Homo sapiens: one gene and its partners. The protein of the gene in region 1 purifies or fractionates together with the protein of each later gene. This does not show direct contact. Each region holds a gene or a part of one and is shown on either strand. Other genes may lie near its edges. The genes, in order: ANGPTL7, CAMK2B, ACSL1, PCK1, TXNDC11, PALD1 and HELZ.

Evidence for each region.
Region 2: the proteins of ANGPTL7 (region 1) and CAMK2B purify together in Homo sapiens (affinity purification with mass spectrometry; one large-scale study listed by BioGRID and IntAct). This does not show direct contact.
Region 3: the proteins of ANGPTL7 (region 1) and ACSL1 purify together in Homo sapiens (co-immunoprecipitation; one large-scale study listed by IntAct). This does not show direct contact.
Region 4: the proteins of ANGPTL7 (region 1) and PCK1 purify together in Homo sapiens (affinity purification with mass spectrometry; one large-scale study listed by BioGRID and IntAct). This does not show direct contact.
Region 5: the proteins of ANGPTL7 (region 1) and TXNDC11 purify together in Homo sapiens (affinity purification with mass spectrometry; 2 studies listed by BioGRID and IntAct, with this or other methods). This does not show direct contact.
Region 6: the proteins of ANGPTL7 (region 1) and PALD1 purify together in Homo sapiens (affinity purification with mass spectrometry; one large-scale study listed by BioGRID and IntAct). This does not show direct contact.
Region 7: the proteins of ANGPTL7 (region 1) and HELZ purify together in Homo sapiens (affinity purification with mass spectrometry; one large-scale study listed by BioGRID and IntAct). This does not show direct contact.

The regions. Positions count from the first base shown.
Region 1 is NC_000001.11:11,191,886-11,196,624, reverse strand, and holds the end of ANGPTL7 (angiopoietin-related protein 7 precursor), read right to left. Parts: intron 4,356-4,739; coding exon 4,255-4,355; intron 3,046-4,254; coding exon 2,851-3,045; intron 2,459-2,850; coding exon of another isoform or gene 2,381-2,458; exon of another isoform or gene 2,216-2,380; intron 2,165-2,215; coding exon 1,966-2,164; intron 1,772-1,965; coding exon 1,602-1,771; 3' UTR 644-1,601; downstream 1-643. UniProt on the Homo sapiens protein: Has a role in the formation and organization of the extracellular matrix.
Region 2 is NC_000007.14:44,217,244-44,221,355, forward strand, and holds part of CAMK2B (calcium/calmodulin-dependent protein kinase type II subunit beta), read right to left. Parts: intron 3,659-4,112; coding exon 3,583-3,658; coding exon of another isoform or gene 3,579-3,582; intron 3,468-3,578; coding exon 3,373-3,467; intron 3,052-3,372; coding exon 2,819-3,051; 3' UTR 2,817-2,818; intron 2,280-2,816; 3' UTR 1-2,279. UniProt on the Homo sapiens protein: Calcium/calmodulin-dependent protein kinase that functions autonomously after Ca(2+)/calmodulin-binding and autophosphorylation, and is involved in dendritic spine and synapse formation, neuronal plasticity and regulation of sarcoplasmic reticulum Ca(2+) transport in skeletal muscle.
Region 3 is NC_000004.12:184,773,648-184,777,759, reverse strand, and holds part of ACSL1 (long-chain-fatty-acid--CoA ligase 1), read left to right. Parts: intron 1-776; coding exon 777-876; intron 877-1,097; coding exon 1,098-1,276; intron 1,277-2,344; exon of another isoform or gene 2,345-2,390; intron 2,391-3,884; coding exon 3,885-3,917; intron 3,918-4,045; coding exon 4,046-4,097; intron 4,098-4,112. UniProt on the Homo sapiens protein: Catalyzes the conversion of long-chain fatty acids to their active form acyl-CoAs for both synthesis of cellular lipids, and degradation via beta-oxidation. Preferentially uses palmitoleate, oleate and linoleate.
Region 4 is NC_000020.11:57,564,063-57,566,930, reverse strand, and holds part of PCK1 (phosphoenolpyruvate carboxykinase, cytosolic [GTP]), read right to left. Parts: intron 2,763-2,868; coding exon 2,538-2,762; intron 2,450-2,537; coding exon 2,318-2,449; intron 1,892-2,317; coding exon 1,796-1,891; intron 1,582-1,795; coding exon 1,127-1,581; 3' UTR 1-1,126. UniProt on the Homo sapiens protein: Cytosolic phosphoenolpyruvate carboxykinase that catalyzes the reversible decarboxylation and phosphorylation of oxaloacetate (OAA) and acts as the rate-limiting enzyme in gluconeogenesis.
Region 5 is NC_000016.10:11,732,417-11,736,528, forward strand, and holds part of TXNDC11 (thioredoxin domain-containing protein 11), read right to left. Parts: intron 3,818-4,112; coding exon 3,601-3,817; intron 1,664-3,600; coding exon 1,566-1,663; intron 1-1,565. UniProt on the Homo sapiens protein: May act as a redox regulator involved in DUOX proteins folding. The interaction with DUOX1 and DUOX2 suggest that it belongs to a multiprotein complex constituting the thyroid H(2)O(2) generating system.
Region 6 is NC_000010.11:70,565,465-70,569,260, forward strand, and holds the end of PALD1 (paladin), read left to right. Parts: intron 1-1,116; coding exon 1,117-1,269; 3' UTR 1,270-2,986; downstream 2,987-3,796.
Region 7 is NC_000017.11:67,238,597-67,242,708, forward strand, and holds part of HELZ (probable helicase with zinc finger domain), read right to left. Parts: intron 894-4,112; 5' UTR 837-893; intron 1-836. UniProt on the Homo sapiens protein: May act as a helicase that plays a role in RNA metabolism in multiple tissues and organs within the developing embryo.

The DNA of each region.
Region 1 (4,739 bases):
CCTCGGCCTCCTAAAGTGCTGGGATTACAGGCGTGAGCCACCGCGTGCAGCTATTTCTTATTTTTTTGTCTTTGCTTTAAAAAACTGTGTTCTGTTGACAGTATTGTTCTCTTGCTACTAGTTCAATCCGTCTTGCAACCTATTGACTTTTTTAACCTATCTGCTACAGGGCAAATTAAATCCGAGATGTAATCCCAAATCAGGGCTAACACTGAGATAGTATAAACTACCCCCATCTCCTTAAAGCTCACATATCAGTAAATATATTTGCTTTCTTGGGGACAGAGGATTGAGTGGTTATTTGTTAGAAAGCGCACACACACCACTTTTACTTGGTTAGCCCCGAGCATTAGGGTAAGGTCTGCTGGCCTGTTTTTGCTTCTCTATCCTAAGTAGAATAGAGGGTCTGATAAGGCTGGATGCCTTCACTGCCCAGCCCCAGACGTGTAATCCCCTTTATGAAGAATTGTCCTGGTTGCTGCCCTTTTGTCCCTTACCTGTTCCCTTTTGGCTTCTGCTCCCCGCTTGGTTGCCCTGAACACCAAAACAAACCCCGGGCCTCTGTCACTGCTCACCCTCTGATTTAACTTTAACTTTTTATCCTGCTGTAAGTGGTAATGGTAAGAATTTAAAAAGAAGATACTCACATTTTGAAAGTGTTTATTGTAGAAGGAAAAGAAACGTTGAATGTTTAAAACAAAACCACAATATTTTATTTTTACAAAGTGAGATGCTTATTTACAGCATTTATTATTAACTATAACACCATCTACCTTCAGTTTTCAACCATTTCCTACAGACAAAATTTAAAAGGAAGCTCCTTGAGCTTGTTTCTTACAAAGTAAATAAAAATAGATATACCTGTATTAACTATGAATATTTTAAGGCAGTTTTGTGCCGGCATCCATGAGAGACTCTGTCCACCTCCTGCTGGTGCTTCATTCCTTTCAGTGCTGTACATGACCAAGGCGAGCAGGGGCAGTGCTCAGAGTCTGATCGCCAGATGCAGTGCCCTGGAGTTTCCTCCCCGCAAGTCCAGCCTGGGTCAGTTCCAGCCGAACAATTTTTGTGTTTTAAAAATAATGTGTAGACTCAAGATAATTTCACTGGATTTAAAAATAGAAATACCATTTCCCACCTGCCTCCTTCACTCCTTTCTCTAACACTCAAAGGCCTATCCTTTGAGAATCAAAATAATATGGTTCTTTTTAGCAAAGGGATTTGTGTTTTGCCCTCACATAGCCTAAGCCGTAGAGAAAATAGATAAAACGATCTCAAAATTATTTTCTTTCACAGACAAATCATGTGGAAAAGACAAGCTACTGCTATGTCAGGGATCTTGGGCAGAGAGACCCCACTCAGTCTACCACCTTGAGAAGGATGTGGCAGGACCCAGTGGGTTTAAATAGTTCATCCTGTTTACTGTAACATCCTTGGTACATATGATTTTTTTGTGCTCCTTGGAGACTTATTCTTTCTTTGGAGATTATAGGCTGTTTCTCAGTCCTACCCTTTCTAACACTCTCTTCCTGTCCTCATCTGCCCTCATCCAGTCTCCACGTGTCTCAGTTTCTGTATCCGTGCTCCACGGCAGCCTCCTTTTAAGGCTTGAAGTCTTCTGGGCGGATTTTCATCTCCACCCGTTTGAGGGAGTAGGTAGATCCATGCCAGCCATACCAGGTGATGCCATCCAGGTGCTTATTGTGCTCACCCAGGCGGTAGTACACTCCATTGAGGTTGGAGTCTGTGCAGCAGTTGTACCAGTAGCCACCTGGCATGAGAAACAGACCCAGTGCTAGTAAGTTGACTGTGATAGACCAGACATCAGGTAAGGAGTTAGAGCCAGGGTCAGAAAGAATACCAAAACCGGAATATCAACTGTACAGTTATAATTCACTCTTTCTCCTCAAGTGGGATTATGAGCTTGTACCTGAACTTCTCCTTTCCGGTCCCCCCAAATCTCACCTTTGCGGAGCTGTGCACACTTGTCCAAGCAGTTGTCATTGTCCTTGTCCTTGGTGCTGAAGGCTGTGTTGTTATGATACTGGAGGGCGTCGTTCCCCACATTGCCAGTGTAGTTCCCCAGGAAGAGGCGATAGCTGTTGAGTTCATTGCCCAAAACAAAGTGGCTATACTCAGCGTAGCGCAGGTTGCCCTCCCAGTCCTGTCAGGAGGAGCAGAGCCTTAAAGAAAGTGCAGCAGGCTCCATTTCATGCTGTCTCTATACCCCTTCTCTCCTGACAGTCCCATAGCCAAACATCTTTTTATAGGTGTGAATCTAATAAGACTTTATTACTTGTTTACCTCCAGTTTACTGTGTTAACCTGGGAATCAGAAAACAAGGCTCGAACTTCTTTCCTGATTCACCATATGGCCTTGATTAGTCTCTCTTTCTATATTCCTCACTTTCCTGCTTATAAGGTGCAGCTATGTTTTTGCTGAATCCCACACAGAGCTGCTGTAAGAGAAACATGAGGATATAGTGAGTGCTTTCAGACCTTCAGCAAGGGTCCCCAAACAGTATCAGTAAGATTTGCACCTAAAGGACCTCATGCTCGGCCAGAGCAGAGACTAGTGTTCGGCACAGCTGACTGTTGAATTTGCTCTACTCTGGCCTGGGTCTGGCCTCTTCCTGTCCCACCTGCAGCCCCACTTTTGTCGGGGGGTTGGGGGGGTTGCAGAAAGGAAAAATACCTATTTTTCCTCAACTCCATTACAACTTGCAGGAAAACCATCACAATGAATATACAGATTTGTCTTGAATCAGAATAGGAATGGCACCCCCGGAGTTGTACGCGGTCATGTGTGGTGGCACTGGTCCAGTCATGGGGCCCCTGGCCTTGTGCTTACCTCCATCTCTACACGCAGCCGGGTTGGCTGTCTGGAGAGCCGGTGGATGTGTTCGTTCCCCAGCCAGAAGTCCCCACGGATGCTGCCAAAGCCCTGCTTGTACTGCTTCCAGTCCCGGTAGAAGGAGACAAGGCCACTTTTTCGTCTCTGGATGATGGTCCAGCCTCCGCCTGAAGTCTCCATGTCACAGAACACCTGAAGCAGAGGGGATACTCTGGTGAGGGACTTGCAGGGGCAGAAGGCAGGAGCAAGAGGGCAGGCTTCCCAACCTGTTCCTGTCCCTGCAGAGCCAGTAGATGTGTGCACTCCCGCAGTCACACTGGCTCACTCGGGCAGTGATGCTGCCCCACTGCTGGTGAGCTGGGGTGGGTGGTGCATTGCTCTGGAAGAACGATGCAAATTGGGCCCGGGGGTGAGTGCACATGAAGCTTGGAGGGAAAAATCCAGATACTTTTTTTTTTTTTGAAGCAGAATTTCACTCTTGTTGCCCAGGCTAGAGTACAGTGGTGCAATCTCGGCTCACTGCAACCTCCACCTCCTGAGTTCCAGTGATTCTCCTGCCTTCCTAGTAGCTGGGACCAGAGTGCCTGTCACCACACTGGGCTAATTTTTGTATTTTTAGTAGAGACTGGGTTTCAGCATGTTGGCCAGGCTGGTCTCAAAGTCCTGACCTCAGGTGATTGTTCCGCCCACCTCACCTCCCAAAAAACTTGGGATTACAGGTGTGAGCCACCATGCCTGGGTGAAAATCCAGATAATTTGATGCTGCCTTCGTGTTTTCTTTTCTCCTCCCCCAAGGAATAGCTGTTCTAGGACATGGCAAGAGATTTAAACTAAGTTATGTGGTGGTTATAAGAATGATCTGATCTATGTTAGAAGGCTTGTTGTTTGACTGATAATGATTTGAAGGGGCCAAACAGATGCCTGGGTTTGGAGTGCAGGGCATAAACTGAGTGTTTGCATAGCTCTGTGGTGTTTGGTGTGTTTGCTTGTGTTTGAGTTTTCCTTTTTTTTTTTTTTTTTTTTAATTGAAATGGAGTCTCACTTTGTCTCCCAGATTATAGTGCAGTGGCGTGATCTCGGCTCACTGCAACCTCTGCCTCCTGAGTTCAAGCAATCCTCCTGTGTAGCAGGGATTACAGGTGCCCACCACCATGCCTGGCTAATTTTTTTGTATTTTTAGTAGAGACAGGGTTTCACCATGTTGGCCAGGCTGGTCTTAAACTCCTGACCTGAAGTGATCCACCTGCCTCGGCCTCCCATAGTGCTGGGATTACAGGTGTGAGCCACTGCGCCCAGCCGAATTTTCCTTTCTTTAAACTGTGAATGGCCCTGTTGTTGTAGTCCCCTTGAGGGGGTGAAGGACAGGTATTAGGGCATGGCCAGTGACTGTAATGACCTCACCTCCAGTTCAGGGCTGCCCAGGAAGTCATCAGGAGGAAGCTTATACACTCCAGAGATGCGGTAGTTCTTCTGGTAGAGGGAAGAGCAGTCGTAGATGGCATCTACAAGAGAACAAACCACAGGGTGAGCATTTAGACCCAGTGGCTCCATCTGAGTTGAGTGTTTAGAGACTGAGCCTTTATTTCTACCCTGGGATTCTCAGTGGTGTTAATTACCCATCAGTGTCTGCATTTGGGAGAGGTGGATATGGGGAGATCCAGAGGGGGTGTATTTTGGCTTTACTAGCGGTGGAGCAGAGGGGTAGGGAAGCCCTTCACCTGGATAGCATTAGTGGGACGTTCCAACAGGTGGTTTCAGGTTAACTCTGAAATAAATTATTCTGCTATAGCTGGGCCATGAATTCTAGAAATGTTACAGTGTATGAGGGCCACGTAACAGATACTCCTGTCAGATAGATTCAGACTTCTTAGACAGCCGCCACTATA
Region 2 (4,112 bases), on another chromosome or scaffold:
CAATGAAACTCAGCAAAAAGAGAGAGGAGGGGAGGCCAGCCAGCACCGTGGGCAGCCGACCCCTTGCAGCGCTGGCCAGCGGCCGCCACCACCACACCGCGGACACCTAGCTAGCAGACCGGTGTGGCTTGCTCTTTAGGGGTCATGCAAAAGAATTATCCCCCAGAAAAAAAATCCCCAAATTATCCCAGACAGGCAGCTCCGTGGAGGTGACAAGGTGAGAGGGAGAGGAGGGGAGGAGGCCCCAGGACGCCAGGGTGGCCGGCTGCTGGGCCACGTGCTGTCCGTGGTGAGCCCTGCCGCTGTCCCATGGCCCAGGGAGCCACTGGTGCGGAGCCCGGCAGATGTTTACCCTGTGTTCATGGATGGGGACAGCTGTCCTGGGCACAGCGTGGACGGAAGATGGTGTCCACTCTGAGTGTTCATCGGTGGACAGTCCCCTTGGAGTTTAGGATCCTGTGTCCTGTTCCCCATTCTGTGCCCCTCCCTTGGCTTGATTTGTAGGGGAAGATAAAGAAAATCCTTGTTGAAAACAATGTGAATTGAAAGTGGGCAGGCACTGGGGCAGGAGCCCCTGACCCTCTGCAGTCAGGGCTTGTGACCACCCCCACCCAACCTGGCTTCAGACCCACCCTGCAGCCCCACCATGCTCGGGCTTGCCCTGTCCCCGAGCTCCCCCATGGTACACACCATCACAAGGGGCCGGGGACCCACCGCCTCGAACCCAGGCAGCCGACGCTCAGGAGCACAGGGCTAGACCCTGCCCTCCATCCGCTGGTGTCCTGGGCCCTGTGCCCACCTGTTTCTGTCCCCAGCCCGCCTTATCTCCATAGCTGCATCCCTGGCCCACCTAGAAGGTGCCCTCACACGCACTGCAGCCCGCCAAGGCACTGGCACACCTGACACTGCACGGGCAGCACTGCCCTCACGCCTCCCATGTGCCCTAGGCTGGCTCCCACTGTAGCTTTTGCTCCCTTCTGCTCCCGGCCCAGATTCCAAAGGCACTCCCACTTCAGTAAACCCCTGCACAGACCCTTGTCTCAGCCCAGAAGCTGGGCAGCCACCACCTCTGATCCCGCTCTGCCACTAGCTGCACCACCCGACCAAACCCCAAGCCCCAGGCTTCCCCAAACCCCATCAGCAGACGAATATGCCCAGACACAAAGCCTGGCCTCCCCTCCCAGCTTCAGCTGGGGGCTCAGGGACTTGAGCGAGGCCCGCAGTCCTTTGTCAAAAGTCTGCTCCCCCTTGCGGGCTGCAGAGAAGCCGAACAGGCTGGGGGAGGGCCGAGGGGCGGAAACAGGGTTGGGAGCTGCCAGTGCATCTGCTGCTGGCCAGCAGAGAAGGGACAGACACCTCACACAGGAGGGGGGCCAGCCCAGGCAGAGTCCTCTTGCCACAGCTGGCTGTGTTGGAGCTGTAGCCAGCAGTGCTGTCTCTTGCTCGGCGAGAGGCCCAAAACTAAGCTGTGCCCCTCTTTGCACTTTACTCCCCCAGAAGGACCAGAGCTGGAGCCCTGGGTGTGTAGGGGCATCTCTGAAGGCCTTGGGGACGGGACTCCAGTTTCAATACTCCAGGGGGTGAGGGGCCGGCCTGGGCTCTGCCGAAGGGTTGTCCGTGCTGGGTGTGTGGGGATACCGGGCACGGAAAACCCACACCTAGCCCTTCAGGGGATGAAAGGAAGGGAAGGGAAAGCAGGAACAACAGCAACTCTCAGGCACAACTAGCGGGAAAGGAGGCAGCCCAGCGGGCCCCCACAGCCCCTCCCAAGAGACAGCTGACAGTCACGACAGCCAGCGAGCACACCACGTGGAGCCCATGCGTTGGCAGGAGGATGCAGACACCTTAGGTGTGGGGTGTGTGCGTTACCTACAAACTAACACCGTTCAGCACGCGACGGGGGCCTGGCAGACAAGTTCATGTCCCAGCTGGTCCCCCAGAGGCCAGGAGCACAGACGGACACACGTGGAGCTTGGGTGGGGAGTGGCCCCACGAATGCCAGTGATTTTTACAGCTTTTTCCTTCCTTTAGTTTTTTTTGTTTTTTTTTTTTTTCATTTCATCTGATGTCAATTTTTTTTGTGGTTGTCGTCGTCATCTTGTTTTTTTTTTTTTTTTTTTTGTTTTTTTTTAACAAATCACATCTGGTCTTGTTTTTCTGCAGACACAGGCACCAGGGGAGGGAACGAGGCAGACACAAACATGCGACAGGCAGGCCGTGTGCCCGAGGGCAGTCGGGCTCCAAACACCAACTCTGTCCGGCGAAACCAGGGCGCAGCTCTGAAATGGGGCGGGTGGGTCAGCTCCTCAGCAGCCCCCTCTCCCATCCACCCCCAGGCTCTGCTGTCTGCCATGCGGCACTGCAGAGAGGGTTAAAGTCCAGAAAAGGGCCCACTCGGGAGAGAGGTTCAAGGTGCCCAACCCAATTACTACTATCCCTGTAAAACTGGGCTCTGGGCCCGCTGCACCCACCACCTGGGGAACGCCCATCTGGGGCTCTAACAGTCCTCACAAACAGGGCATGGTGCCCAGGACTGTGCTGCCCGGGGCCCATCCACCTGCAACCCACCCAGCTCTGGCCAGTGTGGACTGCTCAGGCCCTCACCAGCTCCCCAGTCCTCTGGGGAGGCCTGCCACACCCAGCCTGCCGTGGTCCCTAATTTGACATCATTCCTGTGGCCTCACCAGGAAAGCTCAGGGACTTCCCAGGCATGGCTCTGCACAGGCCCCACCGCTCCCCATCGCCTCCCCAGGCTGCAGCCACTCACACCACCGCCACCCCTCTGCCCCAGCTGTCACTTAGCACAGAACACTCACCTTCACTGCAGCGGGGCCACAGGCGCGCCCGAGCAGTGGAAGTGCACGTTCTGCCACTTGCCGTCGCGGCGGTGCCACACGCGGGTCTCCTCAGACTGGCTGGTGCGGGGCCGGCCCTGCCCGTCAATGTACTGCGTGAGCCGGATGTAAGCGATGCAGGCGGCATCCTCTCCAATGACGTGCACGTGTGGGTTCAGGATGGTCGTGTGGATCGGCTTGCTGTTCTTGGCCAGCACTGTGGACAGCAGGCGGGGCGGGGGTCTCGGGTTACCATGACTGCCCTGGTGCCCGTCTTCCACCCCACCAGCCTAATCCTTTCCCTCTCTCAACTCCCCTTATTGGGGAGGCTCGGCTCTCCTGGGAGCAGCATGGGCCCCTCCAAGAGTGGGATTCTGGGGGCTGGGTATGGCCTCTGGCGGGGGAGAGGTGGCTGGCCAACCCTGGGCACAGAGGGGACAGGGCTTCCATAGGCAGCCACCATGCTGTCCCTGGGAGGGGCCGAGAGGCTCTCCTGGGGGCACCGCCCCCTCATGCCCACCCGGGCTTCCTCACTCACGGTTCTCGAAGTAGAATCTGTGGAAGTCCATCCCTTCAACCAGGTTGCCCAGTGCTTCAGGCTCAAACGAGGTCAGCCCTGGGTCACAGATTTTCCTGGGGGCCAAATCCAAGTGAGGAGGGGCCCCGTGGACCCCTGACTCTGAGCAGGCCCCCCCAAGGGTCCCACATCCTTGTCCTGCACAGCCCCCCCCCAGCCCCAGGGACTCACGCGTAGGCCTCAAAGTCACCGTTGTTGACGGCCTCGATGAGCTGCTCCGTGGTCTTAATGATCTCCTGCTTCCGGGCTGTGGGGAGACATGGCCAGGTGACCACTGGGCGCTGGCCCATTCCCCCCGGACCCCTCCACACAGCCCAGGGGAGGGCCTGGGGGAGCGCGAGCTGCATCCATGCCGTGTTCCTGCCGCTATTTGCAGAAGAGGTCCTCTCCGCCGCCCCCCCTGCATCACCAGTGGCTTCCTCATTTTCAAGTGCAACAGCTTCCATCTTATTTTTCTTAACTAAAGTATTTTTGAAGAACAGAAATATTCTATCCACATTACAAAATGCCTGGAAAATGCAGAAAGAGGACAAAAAACCCACCCACAATCCACTTGGAGGTCACCTCCTGGCCCCACGTGCTGTCCGCCACAGTCTCCCTCCTGCCCTCCCGTGAGCCAGCCCCTGGGCCCACCAGGCCTGGCCCTGCGCTTCCCTGCAGCTTCCCGGCCCCACTCTCCTCCCGAGCCTTGGGTTCTTAGT
Region 3 (4,112 bases), on another chromosome or scaffold:
TCTCAGTTACACCCTCCCAGTAGCATCTGTAGCTACCTTGGCCGATGGTGGGCTTTCTTATCTCTGGGTCAGTCCCTGTCTGATAATTATTGCTAATTATCTTTTAACATATTTGCCTCAATTCTTCAGGCGGATTTTAATTTATCTTTCTTTCTCTCTTTCTCTCCTTTCCTTTCCTTCCTTTTTTCTTTTCTTTCTCAATCTCTCCTCTTTCTCTCTCTGTCCTCTCATCTTTCTTTCTCTCTCTCTCTTTCCTTCCTTCCCTCCCTCCCTCCCTCTCTTTGTACATGCATACATACATACATACAGGATCTCACTCTGTCACCCAGGCTGGAGTGCACTGGTGTGATCACAGCTCACTGCAGCCTCAACCTCCTGGGTTCAAGCAATCCTCCCGCCTCAGCCTCTCAAGTAGCTGCGACATGGTGTGTGCCACCATGTCCAGATAACTTTTGTAGAGGCAGGGTTTTGCCATGTTTCCCAGGCTGGTCTTGAACTCCTGGGCTCAACTGATTCCCCCAACCTTGGCCTCCCAAAGTGCTGGGATCACTGGTGTGAGTCAGTGTGCCTGGCCTTAATTTCTTTTTAAGAAGGGGGCATGTGTTTTGTTCTCATTCTGAATCCCTTATAGCACCTGGCACAGAGTAGTAGCTAACACAGATGTTAATTTTGCTGCGTCAAATGTTTTCACTTTGAATCTCTCTTGAGTATTGTTCTCCTTATTGATTACATGATGACATCCTGTTTTCTCTCCCTGACCTTTACTGTTTGTTTAGTGGGTGATTATTGAACAAGGATGCTTTGCTTATTCGATGGTGATCGTTCCACTTTATGATACCCTTGGAAATGAAGCCATCACGTACATAGTCAACAAAGGTACGTCTGTGATCTTTGCCTGGATTATTGGCATAGTTATTGGTTAGGTTCAGTGACTTTACATTTGCTTACATTTGATTTGACAAAGATTTTACATGTAAATATATATCTACCTTTTTATTCAAAGAATGTAGTACTTCAAGTATCCTTGTGCTGGATATGACAGAGTGAATCTTTTAACATCCCAGAGCTTATTCTTCATTGTATCTCTTCATTTACAGCTGAACTCTCTCTGGTTTTTGTTGACAAGCCAGAGAAGGCCAAACTCTTATTAGAGGGTGTAGAAAATAAGTTAATACCAGGCCTTAAAATCATAGTTGTCATGGATGCCTACGGCAGTGAACTGGTGGAACGAGGCCAGAGGTGTGGGGTGGAAGTCACCAGCATGAAGGCGATGGAGGTGAGTGCCCTGCCTCCTTCCCTTCTCTGAAGGCTTTCCCTGGGGCCGTGTTGGCTCACACGTGCTATCCAGTGCTATCTAGTGCTATGGTGCAGTCCCAGCGCTGGCCGGTTGCCTCCGCAACCCATGAAAGAGAGCAGAAACTTCTGTCTCATTGCTGGAAAAAGGATTCTACATGTGTGCCCAGTGTTAACACCTCACACCTTACCCAAGTGCTTTCAGCACTCCAATATTTATTCCAGAGCACTGACAAGCTGTGCCCGGAAATGCCAGAAATGGGAATTACAGCTTCAGGCAGGTGGAACTTTCAGTTTCTGTGTCTCCTTTGGGCTTTAATGCCTTTTACTTACTAATTTGTCTCTAATGCCAAGCCAAGTATAGAAATCAGCCTCATCGTTCTTTTCCCTGGATGGCTCGTGGAGAGTCTTGGTGAATTTCCAACATGCATGTTTGATTTGGTTTGTTTTCATATTGACTCTTAAGAGTCATACCAATCACAAGTTTAAAGGCAGCCATTCCAGGAGAATGAGCGTGGTGGTCCATGCTCAGCTTGGGTGCTTGATGTCAGATGATATAAGAAGTTGATCCCCGTCAGTTGGACTTGGATTAGAGTTCCATCCAAGGAACATGGCCGGAGGAAGATCTTTTCATATACATATCATAACAAGTCATAGGAAAACAGAGTCAGTCCTTCTCTTTCTGAAGGTGTTAGAAATATTTTTCTGAAACTGTTATAGATAGGATTTTAAATTTTTATGTGTAGTTTTCCTCCTCCTACAAAGAATTTGAGGCTATAAGTAAGGATCTGTAGAACCTTTCCTGAGGAACCCAGTAGGCACAGGGAAGCGCGGGTGTTCTAACAGAACCTTCTCTCTTGTGCATGTGTGCGCCCCTGCCCAACTCTCTCTCTCAGTAGCATCGAACGTGATTCCGCAAGTGCTGACCCGGGTGCTTCCTTGTTGAATTGGGGTTTTATAGCTTCTTACCTAGTGTTTCCCCACTTCTGTTTTTTTACTTTTAACCCTCTTTTACTATAATGTAATCTCTTTTTCCCTTACCTTCCCACAGATGCAAGAATTTTTCTGGTGTTTTTTGACTGCTGTATGATAAAGAAGTAATGTTGAAATTTAAAAATTATTTAGTTGATTGAAGATTATAATATAAAGTTTATATTAAAATATTAATTTATAGAAGACATTGTTTTACACTTACCTGTTTAATATGATCTGTACTTAGTTTTTAAAAATATTCTGAGCAAAAGGTGAAGAGATCGCCCCACTGCACTGCAGCCTGGGTGACAGAGCGAGACTCCATCTCAAAAAATAATAATAATTGCAGTATTTTTCCTAAGTGATACTGTAAGAGAGATGTAAGGCTGTGAAACTTTTGCGGCAACAGTGCACTAATTTGGATAATGTTTGTTCCCAATAAATTAAGAGCCAAATTGTATGTAACTGGTGCTTTATTTTATTTAACATCAGTTTTTGAAGAATTGGGCATCTCCAGAAGTTATGTAAGAATTTTTAATAGACAAATAGAAATCTGGAGCTAATAAAGGTTATTTTGAAAAAAATGTACAGAATTATTGCTTTAGCTTTTGGCTGACCTCTAATTGGATATATTAGTTCCTGTTCTTAATCGGTGGTCTGTCACTACATCATTTAAAATGTAATTAAGATTGAAAACTTAATGTATGCTGGGCAGAAACTCACTAAGCCCTGAGCACACCCATCTAATTTCCACGTGAATTGAACATGTTCAATGGCGTGTTCAATGGCATGTTCATTCCATATCCTCATTCAAGCTGTTCCATTTGAATAGGAAAAGAATATAAATAGTTCATTTGTTAAAATTAATAGATATTAAAGTGGCCACCAAGACTGCCCTAATGCAGTAAACCGAACCCCATCAGTGGTAGTGACTGGAAGCCTGCCGCTGGGAAATGCTGTCCCCGCGCAATGCTTCTGTCATTCTTAACCTTCAAGTCCATTCAGGAAGGAGTCTTAGAGGGTCTGCTGTGGCCTGTTTTATAATTGGGGGCTCCCAAATCCTATCTCCACTCTACGAGGGGAGATATTTGAGCAGATATTTGAGCCTCTCCAAAATGCCTAGCATTTCAATCGAGCAGAGATTGATTTTTCTTCTTCCCAGATTGCAGATGTCAGTTGTGCAGAATGTGGGGGTGAGGTAGTGCTGTGCTCTGATTTGAGGAACCTACGAAGTATCTGCAGTATCTCGTTATGGTTAAGAACAGGGCTTTATTAAAGGCCCTAATAAGAAGTGGAAGTGGGGACCAGAAATGCATGGTAAAGACTTTGGCTGCTGTTTTTTTAATACATCCTATTTCAAAGACCAGTCCTAATACCGTTTATGTAGTTTTATGTAAGAGAAGAGGTAACTGGAAAATGGCTTCTCAGAACAATGAATAAATATTTTGGTTCTGGTTAATTAAAACTGCCATAGTTTCTTTAATTAGAAAATTATGCTGTTTTCGAGCCAGGTGTGAATGAACCCCACAGTAAAGCCAGCTTTAAGTGACTCGATGTGACCTTATCCTTTACAGTTAGAAAACGTTTCCATTTAAGACTTTTTTTCTCTTCTAATTAAGGACCTGGGAAGAGCCAACAGACGGAAGCCCAAGGTAAGCACACCGTGTCAGACCCTGCTCTGTCCTCTTTGTAGTTTTCAATATCTAGCCTGGTACCTTGTGGCTTATAGTTCTCTTTTCTGTTCTGATTTATACCAGCTTTTTTTTTTTTTAATCTTTAGCCTCCAGCACCTGAAGATCTTGCAGTAATTTGTTTCACAAGTGGAACTACAGGTGAGTTTTGAGATA
Region 4 (2,868 bases), on another chromosome or scaffold:
CAGATCCTGTCCCCTTTTCCTTCTCACTTGTCTTCCTCTGCTCCCCCGCGGGGATGACAGTTGAGAAAACTGTTGCTTTGAAGAGTTAAAAGGCAAAATCCTATGAAACTGTCCACAATGTAATTTTTGTGGAAGCCTGAGACCCCTCCAGATCCAAACTGTCAAAAAGCATGCATTAAACCCTCCCAGTCCTGCCACATAAGCCTCACCATCTAAAGGTTTGTAGAATTGTTAAAGGATGCCAACTAGTGGCTTCAGCAAATTCAGAAAACCCCAACCATGGTTCCCTGCCTCATTCCTCCCCATCTGCTCCCTCCTTCTCCCTGGGACCAGGCAATGCACCCCCTCTTCAAGTGTGATTCTGAACGTCCCCACCTTCTTGGGGAGGGGGCAGGATTTAAATCACAAGATATTTAATCAGAGTTCTCTCCTCTTGGTAGCTCAAATAAGAAAAACCAAGCAAAGCAAATCCATCTTTTCTATAAAACTTCATTTTGTAATTTTTTTCCAAGAAGTAGTAAGGGGGAAATATTGCAATTATGTAAAGGTAAGGAACAATGGTGTATAAAAATAATTTAAGCACAATATTAATAACAAAGCAACTTTTTTTCAAGGAAAACTAGTAGGTCATCTTGCCCAAGATTTTTCCAAAGGTATTAAATATATTTTCAATAACAGTACATACAAATACACATACACAAATATACCACACAGACACATGTGCACATACATGCACACACACACACACACACACACACACACACACACATATATATATACAGCTCAAGTATTTTTTTGGTGTGCATTCTAGCTAATCCACATAGCTAAAGTGAAAAAACACTGAAAAGATCAATGCCTGAGTAACCTTAAATTTGAACAAACTATGCATTGGATGTGAATTTTTGGAGGCATGCTAAGATTTCCCTTCTCAATTTCATTAGCTACTACCCAGTGTTCTGTGGTTCTTATCCTTAAAAAAATCAAAGTGTGCCTTTCAGATCTGCTCACGGTGTGGTGATGATTATTATGGTGGCGTCAATTTGGGAACACTTGCCCTCTCTTGCTCCTACTGCACCTTATGGATGGGAAAGGGAATGATTTTAAAGGTAAAGCACTCAGGCCCTGATTACATCTGGCTTATTCTTTGCTTCAAGGCAAGGATCTCTCTCTCGATTTCACAGGGGAGGTCGGCATTGACTTGATCCTCCAGATACTTCTCGATGTCTTCCACCTCCTTCTCCCAGAATTCCTTGGAGATGCTGAAAAGCTCCATCATGTTGATGTGCCCCAGGCCTTTCAGGTTCAGGGCATCCTCCTTGGGGATGTAGCCTATGGGCGTGAGCTTGGTGCTGGCTTTTCCATCGATCCGGTTGAACATCCACTCCAGCACCCTGGAGTTCTCTCCAAAGCCTGGCCAGAGGAATTTGCCTTCCTTGTCCTTCCGGAACCAGTTGACATGGAAGATCTTGGGCAGTTTGGCTGCTGGGTGCTGGGCCATGCTAAGCCAGTGGGCCAGGTATTTGCCGAAGTTGTAGCCAAAGAAGGGCCGCATGGCAAAGGGGTCATGCATGATGATTTTGCCTGTTAAACAGAGAGGGAGTTCATTAGTAAATGAGGCTCTCCTAGGCAAGACTGACGCCATTGATTGTTGACATTAGCATGCTTTGTTCTCCTCTCTCTCTTTCTCTCTCTCTCTCTCCCCACACACAGACACAGAAAAGGAGAGAGACATAAGAGTGACGAAGAGTGCTCTAATCCCACTTCTCTGTGGTTTCAGATCAGGACTTTGATTTACCTTTATGTTCTGCAGCCGCTGTGGCCTCTGATCTCATGGCCGCCCCCACAAAGACTCCATGTTGCCAGCTGAGAGCTTCATAGACTAGAGGGACACCTTTAGCAGGAAAAAAAAAGAGAAATGTTCATCAGAGGCTTTGAAATTCAGACTCCACAACCAGTGGTGTTATTCACAACACGGAAAGACACGGCAAGACAATAACTTTGTAATCGAGCTAGTTTTGCGTTCACCAAGCTAAATTGCAGAAAACTGCTAACTCAAAGTTACATGACTGAGGCCACAAAGTAAAAAGTAAAATTTGATCAAGCTACAATAGATCAGGGATTCAGAAAGGTTCCAGGTGACCAGAAGGGTTGGTTCTACATTTGAACTTGCCAATTATTCTGGATCTTTGGGAAGGAAGCTCAAGAAAGGAAGCCCCTGGGCACCCTCTGACAAGGTCATGGAAAAGGAGAGATTTCACAGATGCCCTTCGGTACCCAGCACACCCATGTTCCCAGCCTAAATGAAGGAGAGCCTCACCAGCAGGTCTACGGCCTCCAAAGATAATGCCTTCAATGGGAACACCTTCCGGAGACTCCCAGGCAGCATCAATGATGGGGCACTGGCTGGCAGGGGTGCAGAACCTCGAGTTGGGGTGGGCACAAGGTTCCCCTATAAGACAGAGAAAGGCTCGTGAGTGCCTGGCTCAAACAGGCAGTCCCTGCAGCCCGGCACACCAAGGCCTCTGGCAGGGACACACCATCCTCTGAGCTCCACTCCTTATTCTTCCAGGACGTGATGGTGACACCTGAAGCTAGCGGCTCATCAATGCCTTCCCAGTAAACGCCCCCGTCGCTGGTCTCGGCCACATTGGTAAAGATTGTGTTCTTCTGGATGGTCTTGATGGCATTGGGGTTGGTCTTCACTGAAGTCCCAGGAGCGACACCGAAAAAGCCATTTTCTGGGTTGATGGCCCTTAAATGACCTGGAGAGTTTTAAACCAGAGAAGCAGTAGTGAGTGCCAGGCAAAGCAGAACATATACTCTTATATATTGCCGGACTAATTTCTATGCCAACTTCTCAAATCTTTT
Region 5 (4,112 bases), on another chromosome or scaffold:
CCATCCCGTTACAGAGCACAGAGTTAAGTACACCACCTTACACTTACCTTTAAAACAAAAACAGTAACTCTGAGAAAGTATTCCTGTATCCGAAAAAACCTGTACTTGAACCTTCCATGTAAAGGCAGAACCTCCAAGTTACTGGCCAAAAAGTGGGGAAGAAATCTGAAAATGGTCTTAGTGGTCCCTAAGCAAAAACTGGCTTCTTACTACAAATATTAAAATACAAACATCTAATATCCAGAGGAAAATGTGGGGGTAGAGATGGGGTAGAAAAGTGTGTTTTTGCCCAAATACTACCTAATAGTTCCTGGGAGTCAATACTATGTGCCAGACAACAGTTTATGTTACAGACACGGAAATGGGATGGAATGTGACAGAGAACCCACAAATCACTGTTTGTGCATGTTTGCTATAAATCCCCATTGATTATGGCCCAAGAACTTTAGAAGGAAAAAGGAAAGCTCTCTACTGATCAAATCTCCTTTACCCATTTTACTTTCAACAAACTTCAAGCCAATCACCCTGAACAAAGTCCAAAGTCCTATCTCCTATCTCCAAAACTCTTTGAGTCAGATTTTTAGACATTACTTATCATTCACAGCAGGGTCTGGGCTGTACTCTAGTACAGCCTAGGTCGAGACCAGCCTGGCAACATGGTAAAACCCCGTCTCTACTAAGAATACAAAAATTAGCCGGGCGTGGTGGCAGGCACCTGTAATCCCAGCTACTCGGGAGGCTGAGGCAGGAGAACGGCTTGAACCCTGAGGCGGAGGCTGCAGTGAGCCGAGATTGCACCACTGCACTCCAGCCTGGGCAACAAAAGCTAAACTCTGTCTCAAAATAAAATAAAATAAAATAAGATAAAATAAAACTCTTTCCGTTTTTCAGCCCTCTTTGTGACTTTAGAATTGTGGACATGGGCGGTAAAACCCTGTCTCTACTAAAAATACAAAAAAAATTAGCTGGGCAGGGAGGTGGGTGCCTGTAGTCCCAACTACTTGGGAGGCTGAGGCAGGAGAATGGCGTGAATCCGGGAGGCCGAGCTTGCAGTGAGCGGAGATCGCGCCACTGCACTCCAGCCTGGGCAACAGAGTGAGACTCCGTCTCAAAAAAAAAAAAGAATTGTGGACATGGGACTGTGTACTTGTAGTAATTTTCTTCCCAATAGAATAGATGGTAAGATACACTCTGGACTCTGCTATGCCTCCAGATGAAACGATAAGAAATTTTGTGTATTTTTACAAAACACTCTTACGATATCTGAAATGCATTGGAGTAATTCGTACTTTTAAAAACAATGCTGTAAAATGTGTAATGACATGAAAAGATGCTCAAAAAAGTGAGAAAAGCAGTTTAGGAAATAGTATTACTGCCTGATCCCATGTTTAGCTTTAAAAAGGGGGGTGGATTATCCAGATCTTTCTTTTTTAATTTTTGCTTATCTGTATTATCTGAATTTTCTATAGTGAATATCTAATACTTTAATATAGAAAAAATGCAAAATTCATTTATAAACTGGCAAACTAAACTGGAATGAGAGACGCTATTTAAAAAGTTCTTACCTCCGATGATACAGATATATTACAGGAAAATAAAAGAAGTGTTTCTGTTTTCTGCATTTCCCCTGGTTCCACCAACAGTTAATTGCCACAAACAACACCTGCAGAGCCAAAAAAGGTTTTCAAATGACTATGAATAACAACTGAAAAGTTACCAAGATTTAAAAGATGAAATTTAAAAATAGAATGATTCCTCTCTCACTGAAACAGAAACTATGAAAAAAACTGTTTTGAGTTTTCAAAGGTCATAATTTATCACTAAAACAAAAAAGAAAGACATACTCTTATCTATGATGTCCAGGCAGGACTTGGACCGTGTTTACCAATCTTACCATGCAATACAGTTCAAAAGATTTCTGTGTGTTTCCAAAAATAAACCCACTTTTTTCCCTACTGAGTACATGGAATAGTAAGCTCTCAATTTGGAAGGAGCTGAAATTTTTTTTTTAAAAAAAGCAGCAGTCCCTGGATTGCACTACAACCCCCACCACTACGTGATGGTAAACAAACTGCTTCACCCCTTATGCCTGCAGTCCTGCTTCAGAAAAACAGGGCTGACAGCATCGCCTTGCAAAGTGGTTGAGAATTGGCATGGGGCCTGGCACACCAGAATATCATTATTATTATACTAATGCCATCACTCAGAAGGACATACTGCTTAGGCTGACAGTAAGGTAGCTAATTCACACTTATTAATAAAACACAATAGATATCCCTCTTGTGCCCAACATGGGCAACGTGAACTTTGTTCTCTAAATTTGGAAGGCTCCACAGTTTCTAAGAAAAACCAAATGACAGTTCCAAATGAACTTCTGGAACTCAGCTGCCTACACACGTTACTTCACATCAGTGGTTCTGAGCAGGAGAGTCTTAGAAATCTGTGGGATGCTTTTGGCTTGCTACAATGACTGGGGGAAGCTACAGTGCATACGTAGGGCAGGGGTGTTGGTAGATGTCCTGCTACACTCAAACCTGCTTTGCACACGGAAGAGTCGTCCATAGCATTCCAGAGGAGTTCAAAACGCCTGCCAAACACTGATGTTGGGGAAAACCTGTTATTATCAAAGCCCAGTACCTAGCTCCATTTTACATGTGAATCTAAAGCATGCTTTTTGTGTTCACTGAATTTTTCAGGAATGCAACTTCTATGTAAACTGAGAGCAGAAAGGGCTTTGCATAGTTCAGGATTTTACCAAGACTGTTCACCATTTAGGATAATCAATTACTAAGAGCAATGTCCATGTGGCAGGTAAGTCACCAACATATCACCTTTATCAGTCTACGTTTGTAACTATCCCATTCAGTGATTCTACATAAAGGTATATGGACCTGTTCTGACTGTGCACTTACATACTAAAATATATATCATTTAGTTACAAATTACTTTCTTCCCCCCTCACCTCTATGTTACAATCCGTGCATTAGATTATTTTGAAATTACATGTATAGGAAAACTTTATCATCTATGAATTCCTTTTTAGGAAGAAAAAGGGACATCATAAAATACTTATTTTCTAAAGCACAACTGGGGTCCACTGGGCTGAAAACCACTGCCATAACAGGTGACTTATTTGCCTATATATCTTTCTTACCTAGCCCAAAGGTGGCATTCCTTATCTGCTGAATATAGTTCTGGTCCATATATTAAAAAGGTCGGCCTTGTTACAATGCAGTCATATCATACATACATTTTCTTACCTAAAATACCTAACTAGCAAGTATCAAATGGATATGCAAGAACTAGGATTTTCAGTCCCTCTACCTTTTTCAATGCTGAAACCAAACAGTATGGCACCCCAGGATAAGCATTGGCTTGTGTTATGAGATTCAGAATCTGCTCCCACACTTGCCTTGGAGTACAATCGCCACAATTGGAAATCCTTTCTGTTGCTTTATAGAAAGCTCTGTAACTTAGAAACGACTCCTGGAGTTCACCTTGGCAAAGTCTGCCCGTTGGGCAAGGTGTCTCTGTGGGGACATCCTGCCCTACATATAGGACTGACAGTCATTTGATTCTTAAGCTGAATGTGAGCATTACCTGATCTGAAAGCCGACTTGCTGCTTGCTCAATTTCTGCCCTGGCAGCGATGGACTGTCCACACCAAGGGGCATAGAAGAAGAGCAGTACCACCTCTGAATCCCGTCGAACGTACTCTGCATAATCCAGCTGCCCCTGGAAGAGGTCAAGGACTGGAGACCTCAAGGAGAAAAAGCTGACAGGTGGCTTTGCTGGTATTATCACATCTTTTGCTCGACTAAAAAAGAGCAAACACAGAAAAGATTGCTTAGTTTATCTTCTTCTAAAAATAGCTCTGTGGAAGTAGAATGAAGCTTAAAAGGAAAATCCTCTTTTGAATAAGAAAATGGAGTCCCAAAATCACTGCCCTAGAAAGGCAACATCTGGCTGAGCAAATGCAAGACATGAATAATACGTTGGAAACAATTCTCTGAGATTCTGTCCCCTAGGTGTAGGCTGGAAGGGCAGTGGAGAGCAGAGAAGGATGTCTCTGAATAATCCATATTCCTGCTCCCCACATCCCAAAGACTTCA
Region 6 (3,796 bases), on another chromosome or scaffold:
ATCTGGACTGGAGGCTGGAATTAGCTCCTGGGAAGTGGGTGGGTGGAGAGCAGGGGCCGGTGACCTGGCCAGAGTGGGCACAGGAAGGGTATGGGGGCTGAGGCAGGTGTGAAGTGGACTCAGGGCTATGAAGGAGTGGAGGCAGAGTGGCAGGCTTTGAGGGTGGGCCTTGGGACGTCAGGTGGAGAAGCATTTGAAATGCCCCCGGTGCATGTGATGTGTGTTGAGTCGGGAGACCTGATGGGGTCACACCAAGGCCATGTCGGGGTGCCTTCTTGAGCAGGCCTGGGCTCAGCTTCCTCTGCGAGCCCCTGGGGAGGGGTGGAGGTGGAAGGGGATGAGGACACTTCCTGCTTGGGTTCTGCTTGGAGAGCAGAAGTTGGGGGAGCCTGGGGCCGAGAGGAAGCTTGATCCCCTCCCCAGCTGAATCCCCCACTGGGGCTGGGGGAGGTCAAGAAAGGAGGGCTGCCGGTCCAGGCAGAAGTGTGGGTTCCAGCCTCGGGACCTCAGCCCCTCTCTCCTGCGGATGAGTGGAGGGTAGCAGTGAGGGAGGCCCCAGAGCGGGACGGACCCATTCCTTTGTTCTAAGTGGAGGCTGCACCCTCCCCTTCCCCAGGATGGTGGAGAGAGAAGGGGACTGGTTGTGGATGGTTTGAGTCTGGTGCCAGGGTCTGGGCTGCTGGGCGGCAGGGCTGAGTGTCCAGGGGTGCCTCCAGCTAGCCCACCTGGGGCAGAGGCCATAGCCTTACCTGCCCCTGCATCCACGTTCTTCCTCCAGCCCTCCCTTTAGGCCCTGCTCCTGGGCGTCCACGTGGGAGCATCGAGCTGCACAGGGCCCAGTGTGTGCCTGGCCTCCCTCGCTGCTATCTGTGTGGAGCACTCACTGTCTGCCCAGTACTTTCTGTATGTGTAGAGTCCTCCTTGAGACAGTCCTGTGAGGTAGAGTCTTTTCCTTGCTATGAGGAAACTGACGCTCAGAGAAGTTAACAGAAGTCAAGGTGCAAACTTGTTCAGGTCACCAAGTTCACAGGCCACAGACTCATCTTCAGAACTCAGTGGCCTTAGTGGCACCCTCCCTCCCCTGAAACACTGCTCCTGCCTCTGCTCTCCTCCCAGGTGGCATCGAAGGCTGGCATCTACGAGATCCTTAACGAGCTGGGCTTCCCCGAGCTGGAGAGCGGGGAGGACCAGCCCTTCTCCAGGCTGCGCTACCGGTGGCAGGAGCAGAGCTGCAGCCTCGAGCCCTCTGCCCCCGAGGACTTGCTGTAGGGGGCCTTACTCCCTGTCCCCCCACCCACAGGGCCCCACGCAGGCCTGGGGTGTCTGAGGTGCTCTTGGCTGGGAGCGGCCCTGAGGGGTGCTGGCCTTGAAATGATTCCCCCACTTCCTGGAGAGACTGAGCGGAGTTGGGAGCCTTTTTAGAAAGAACTTTTTATAGGACAGGGAGACAGCACAGCCATCCCTTGCAAACCACCAAGGTGTGTGGCTGACCTCCAGGGAGGAGCACTCACTGGAGTGCTCACAAGGTGCACACTGCTGTGTGTACCTTGCAGACAGGCCGGCGTTCAGCCTCCAAGGGGCTCACTCCCCCAGTTGCCAAACACTGTGGATCTCTCTGTCCTCTTCTCCCCTCTCTCAGATTGGCCTGGCAGCCCCTGGCACAGAGCAGACCCGGCCACTGGTAGCTCCCCACTTCCTTACTCCTGCTGCTCTGCCATTGCCGCTCCCCTTGTTGCTGCCCAAGCACTGCCCTCGGGCGTCTGGCAGCCTGAGGTGGGTGGAGGGGACAGTGTTCTGGATAGATCTATTATGTGAAAGGCAGCTTCACCCAGTTTTCTGGACTCTCATGCCCCCATCTCCGACCTGGGAGACTTCAGGAATGACAACCTACCCAGCCTGGTGGGGCTGGCAGGATGGTGGAGGTTTCTCAAGGAGCTGGAGACTTCAGGGAGCCCCTCTCATGGGGAGGAAAGAGCTTCCAGGGGGCGAACGCAGCACAGAGGAAGAGGCCTGCTCCACTTGTCTGGGAACCTGGGCAGGAGGCACAGAGGAAGCCAAGGCCTGGAGCTGCAGGTCCCCCGGCATCTCTCTCTGTCCCGGCAGCCCAGGATGGCCTGGTGCCCCCACCTGCTGCAGCAGGAGCCCCAAGGAGTGCTAGCTGAGGGTGGTTGCTGGGGTGGTCCTCATGGACAGTGAGGTGTGCAAGGGTGCACTGAGGGTGGTGGGAGGGGATCACCTGGGTTCCAGGCCATCCTTGCTGAGCATCTTTGAGCCTGCCTTCCGGTGGGAGCAGAAAAGGCCAGACCCTGCTGAGTTAGAGGCTGCTGGGATCCACTGTTTCCACACAGCGGGAAGGCTGCTGGGAACAGGTGGCAGAGAAGTGCCATGTTTGCGTTGAGCCTTGCAGCTCTTCCAGCTGGGGACTGGTGCTTGCTGAAACCCAGGAGCTGAACAGTGAGGAGGCTGTCCACCTTGCTTGGCTCACTGGGACCAGGAAAGCCTGTCTTTGGTTAGGCTCGTGTACTTCTGCAGGAAAAAAAAAAAAGGATGTGTCATTGGTCATGATATTTGAAAAGGGGAGGAGGCCGAAGTTGTTCCCATTTATCCAGTATTGGAAAATATTTGACCCCCTTGGCTGAATTCTTTTGCAGAACTACTGTGTGTCTGTTCACTACCTTTTCAGGTTTATTGTTTTTATTTTTGCATGAATTAAGACGTTTTAATTTCTTTGCAGACAAGGTCTAGATGCGGAGTCAGAGATGGGACTGAATGGGGAGGGATCCTTTGTGTTCTCATGGTTGGCTCTGACTTTCAGCTGTGTTGGGACCACTGGCTGATCACATCACCTCTCTGCCTCAGTTTCCCCATCTGTAAAATGGGAGAATAATACTTGCCTACCTACCTCACAGGGGTGTTGTGAGGATTCATTTGTGATTTTTTTTTTTTTTGTACAGAGCTTTTAAGCATTAAAAACAGCTAAATGTGAGTGCACCTGGCTGCTAATATGTCTTTAGTGTCAGACAGACGTTCTAGAACTGGTACAACAGGCTGAGGTCCCTGCCCCTTCAGAGTAAGGGTGGGCAGGCAGAGTGAGTTGAGAGCACCTGTTCTTGGCACTTCCAGCTCTAGAGCAGGCGGGTTTTTGCAGACACGCATCCCCAGTTTTGCCTCACCCTCTTACACTGGATGTCAGGCTGAGCTCCTCCTTGAAGAAAGCAACGGAACCAGCGAATTCTCACTAACATATGAAGGATTGCTGCATCTAGGGAAACAGTATAGAGCAAAGTGGAATTGGGGGCCTGTGAAGGAGCCTGGATCTCAGCCTCCACTTTCTCCCCTAACCCCTGTGGGCCCCACCTGACCCCTTTGGGCCTCTGGTTGATTGAACACACCTCACCCCTGGTTGAGTGCTGGCATTTAAAGAGTCAGTGGGGAGGGTGGGGTAGAGACAGCACTGACTCCAGGCCTCTTCCCCCATGCTTGCAGGGTTAGGGGAACAAGGTTGTAGTTCCGAGGTCAGCTGGGGTGGGCAGAATGGAACCCAGAGCCCCCACCGCCCCTAGGGTTGGTGTTCTCCCCAGACTAGGAGAGAAGGCCCCGGGGGTTCTTTCCCAGCCCAGCAGGGTATGGAAGTTGTCTTCTCTAGGTGCAAGAATGCTCTGTGTGGCTTCTGGACACCAGTGTAGAGCTGTGTACACCGGGGTGGGGTGGAGGGGGGTGGGGGTGGGGGTGGCTCTGCCATTCTCTCCCTGGGATGTGGGGACACACAGGAGTGAGTGGGTGTGCCTGTGTGTGT
Region 7 (4,112 bases), on another chromosome or scaffold:
GCTTGAACCCAGGAGGCGGAGGTTGCAGTGAGCCGAGATCGTGCCATTCATTGCACTCCAGCCTAGGTGACAAAAGCGAAACTCCGTCTCAAAAAAATAATAATAATTTTAACTCTGATGCCTCATAAGGAAAGTATTAAAAGCCTTCTAATTTATTTCTGTAGTATTACCATTTTCTAAGTGTAATAATGAAAGACGAAGACACCATAGCTGACCAAGAAGATTAATTACTGTGAAATAATAAATACTCAAGACTAAACTGTTTTTAATTAACAGGTATTTCAGCAAAAAGTAAATAATCTGAAAGACTAATAGTATCAATAGAGGTAGTACAACCACTAGGAAAAAAAGTTCAACCTTTTGTTTCTATTGATATGTTCTCCATATTTAGATCCTCAAAACTGCAGATATATACAGTCATTCATGACACTATGTAAATAGCAGATAACAGGAAAAACAATTCAATACTTAACCAAGTTCACTGGAGCACAAAGTAATCGCCACTCAAGAATGCTGACACAAAAACTGAAGGACCTCTCAAGTTCCAATAGCACGCAGATAAGCTGAGCCCCTATGCAGTTACTCATCTGAACAGAAGTGGAAGATTAACCTACCCTCACTCATTTCACACACTAACCTGACAAGGCAGCAGGCAGTCTCTTCGGAGCTTGTTCATCATTCAGTCTGTTCCAGAAGTAACCGATTCCGTTAGGATCTGTGCCTTCAGGTTACCACTGTTTCACTACAGCCCTGTATCACTTCACCCTTGTCCCACCTTATTCTTTCAGGCATTATAAAATTCTTGTTTTCTAAATAAAGTTCTAAACCTTACTCACCTGCAGTTCACTGCACTGGGTATCACCCAAATAGCCCATCAGAGCTCTTTATAATTTCTGAAAGACAAAGAAGAAAGTTTTTTTAATACATAGTAGAAAACACCATTCACCAAGATATCAGTTCCAAAGCATTTGTATCCAATATTCCCAGCATATGGTCTTTTGGTCCACACTAGTTCAATAAAATGTAGCATGACCAGCACTAGACCAAGAGTCTTGAGATAAGCCTCCAAAGATTAAAAACAAGCTTGGTTTAATGTTGCTACTACTGAGCTGTGTGACCTTGAGCAACTCATTTAATTTCTTCAGGCCTATATTTCCTTATCTGGAAAATAAGTCACTTAGACTAGCTAGAGAAAGAAGAGCACAGGCTTTCCAGGAAGAACACCAGCTCCACTACTTTACTGGTCTCGTGACGTTACATTAGTTGAGTCACACTTAAGCCTGAATTTCTTCCTTTGTAAAATGGAAATAACTATCTCGTGAGTTGCTATGAGAATTAAAGGAGATGATGAGTTATAAAAAGCCTATAGTAAATATACTGTGCAGCTTATCCTAAAATTCAACAGATGGTAATTCATTACTACCATTAACCCCCACCAGCCCTAACATTACATGAATTCAATTCATGCATATTTCTTTTAAAAGATCAACAAATCAAAACTTTACCAACCTGACTAAAGAACTAACTGTTTTCATGTTTCACAATTCAAATTACAGTTATCTTAAGCTGATGGTAGTTTATCATTATTACTTATCACAGAAAATAAGAACAGAATAGTCCCTGCACAACATCCAAACTCTGGTTCAATGACCATGCCTTTTCTGACTTCTCACTCTACTTCCACACTGCCAGAATATCTCAGGAATAGAGAGGTCTTCCAAAAGCTAAATGACACCCAGCTGTTTGCCAGATTCAGCTCAAGGGAGCAGGACTAGAGACAGAAGAAGAACAGAGGCTTTTCTTTTTTTTAACCTTTTTTACTTTACATAAGTACTGCTCAAATTTGTTTACCATAAGCATACAGGAGTTTTGCATAAAAGTAAATAATTTTTTAAAACTGTATTAGTTAAACACGTTGCCTACTGACAGGAAGCTCGCATTATAGGACATTTTCATCACAACAAAGATAATTTCTGCAGAAGGAAGCAAAAAGGCAAATTCAGATGTGACAAGAACACCTAAAATATAGCACAGAAATGACAAAAATCACAAACATTCACACTTCAGAATAGTTCAGTCAACAAAGATGCCATGCATTCTTTGAAGAACCTGACGATGAATCAAGTTCTTTTTTGTTCAAAGACAAGATATATGTATACACTCTGCTTTACCAAACAACTTCCTGCTCTTACTTGGAGAAACTGACCCAGTACAATTCACAAAAGTAAACAAGTTGGTATGACTGTTGGTATTAGTTGAAAAACTTTCCATTTCTTTTGAATAATTAAAAGTTGACCAAAATAGTTATTACATGTATATATAAATAAAATTCTTCCTGTTACATCTACAGTGGTCTTTTAAAAAGAGGAATATTCACTTCTAACAGATTCAAGATTACTGAAAACTATTATCCCAGCCACCCTCAAAGCAATAAACCATCATGTTATATGCTGCTTCTAGCCAATGCTACAGAAGTAACCCTGACTGCACTCATCAACTGAAATGAATGGTAAGATAGTATGGCATACTCTCCACTTGTATCACTTTTCTTCTAGAAAACATTTCAAAACATTACTTAGAAATCCAATTACATCTGCATGTATATTCACCTAAGTTTATGAAAATTAAACCTAAAAATTTGCTTATAATTTTTTAAGTAGTTCCTCCCCATCTCTTGGATAACTGTTGTTGATACACCTGGCCCGAAATCTTCTATACATTTGAAACAACAGGCAAAGGTCCTTATTTCTTGTATGGGGCCTGTATTTGGATCTTAGGGTCTCTGACAGACAATTATAGACTAATCTACATTCAATATTAATGCCAAGCCTACTGCTTAAATAGAGAACACATGCATCTGTAAGATCTGGGCTACTTACTTGTAGGTCCCTCTGCACTATTCTTAGCCTTTCATGAATATGCTGTAGATTTTTTAATTACACGAGGCCCTTTGCAAGTAAAAATGACTTTTCCTGTTGTTTTGGCATCACTCCTCTTCCAGTGAAAACTGGACAGTCTATAAATATATACCAACTTTAAGACAATGCATTTTAATATCTATGGCATTAGAAAATAAAACTTCTTGTTAACAAATGCAATAATCAAGTTTACCAGCTAATAGAAAGGTACTTACTCCCAAAAACTACAGCCTTACCTAAAAATAGTGTCCTAGCTTCCCAGCCAAAAGGACAGACTAAAAAAGCTCTGTCTTTATTCAGCTCAGAGACACAGACTTCTACCTCACCACAACCTTCAATACTATGGCATTTCCCATTTTAGAATACTTTGTGTAACAAGTTGTTCAGTGGCCAACCACTAACTTCGCTTTGAAATGAATACTAACACTTCACAGAGTCTACATGTGTGAGAACTGTGGAAAATGTCTTGACACAATTCAGGTCAAACAACACTAGCCACACAAGATTACCTACTTCTAAGTATTCCATTTTAGACTACAAACAAACATCTCCACAGTCAAAAAGCAGACCACTGGCTCCTTTCCACAAAATTATCTGTAGGCTTCAAGAAAAAAGATAAGGCCAGGCATGGTGGCTCACGCTTGTAATCCCAGCACTTTGGGAGGCCAAGGCGGGCAGATCACCTGAGGTCAGGAGCTCGAGACCAGCCTGACCAACATGGTGAAACCCTCTCTCTACTAAAAATACAAAATTAGCCGGGTGTGGTGGCGTAAGCCTGTAATCCCTACTCGGGAAGCTGAGGCAGGAGAATTGCTTGAACCTGGAAGGTAGAGGTTGCAGTGAGCTGAGATCGCGTCATTGCACTCCAGCCTGGGCAACAAGAGTGAAACTCTGTCTCAAAAAAAAAAAAAAAGAAAAAAAATCTATCTATCTATATACATAGATACACACATATATACACATATATACATATATACACACATATCTATACACACATATATGTATATATACACACATATATGTATATATACACACATATATGTATATATACACACATATATGTATATATACACACATATATAAAGTTCAAATTGGGAGGTCTAAGGCAGGAATATGCCTCCATCTGCAAAATAAAAATAAATTTAAAAATCCATATTTGCTCTGCCAAAAATAAAAATTATATGAAATAAACAT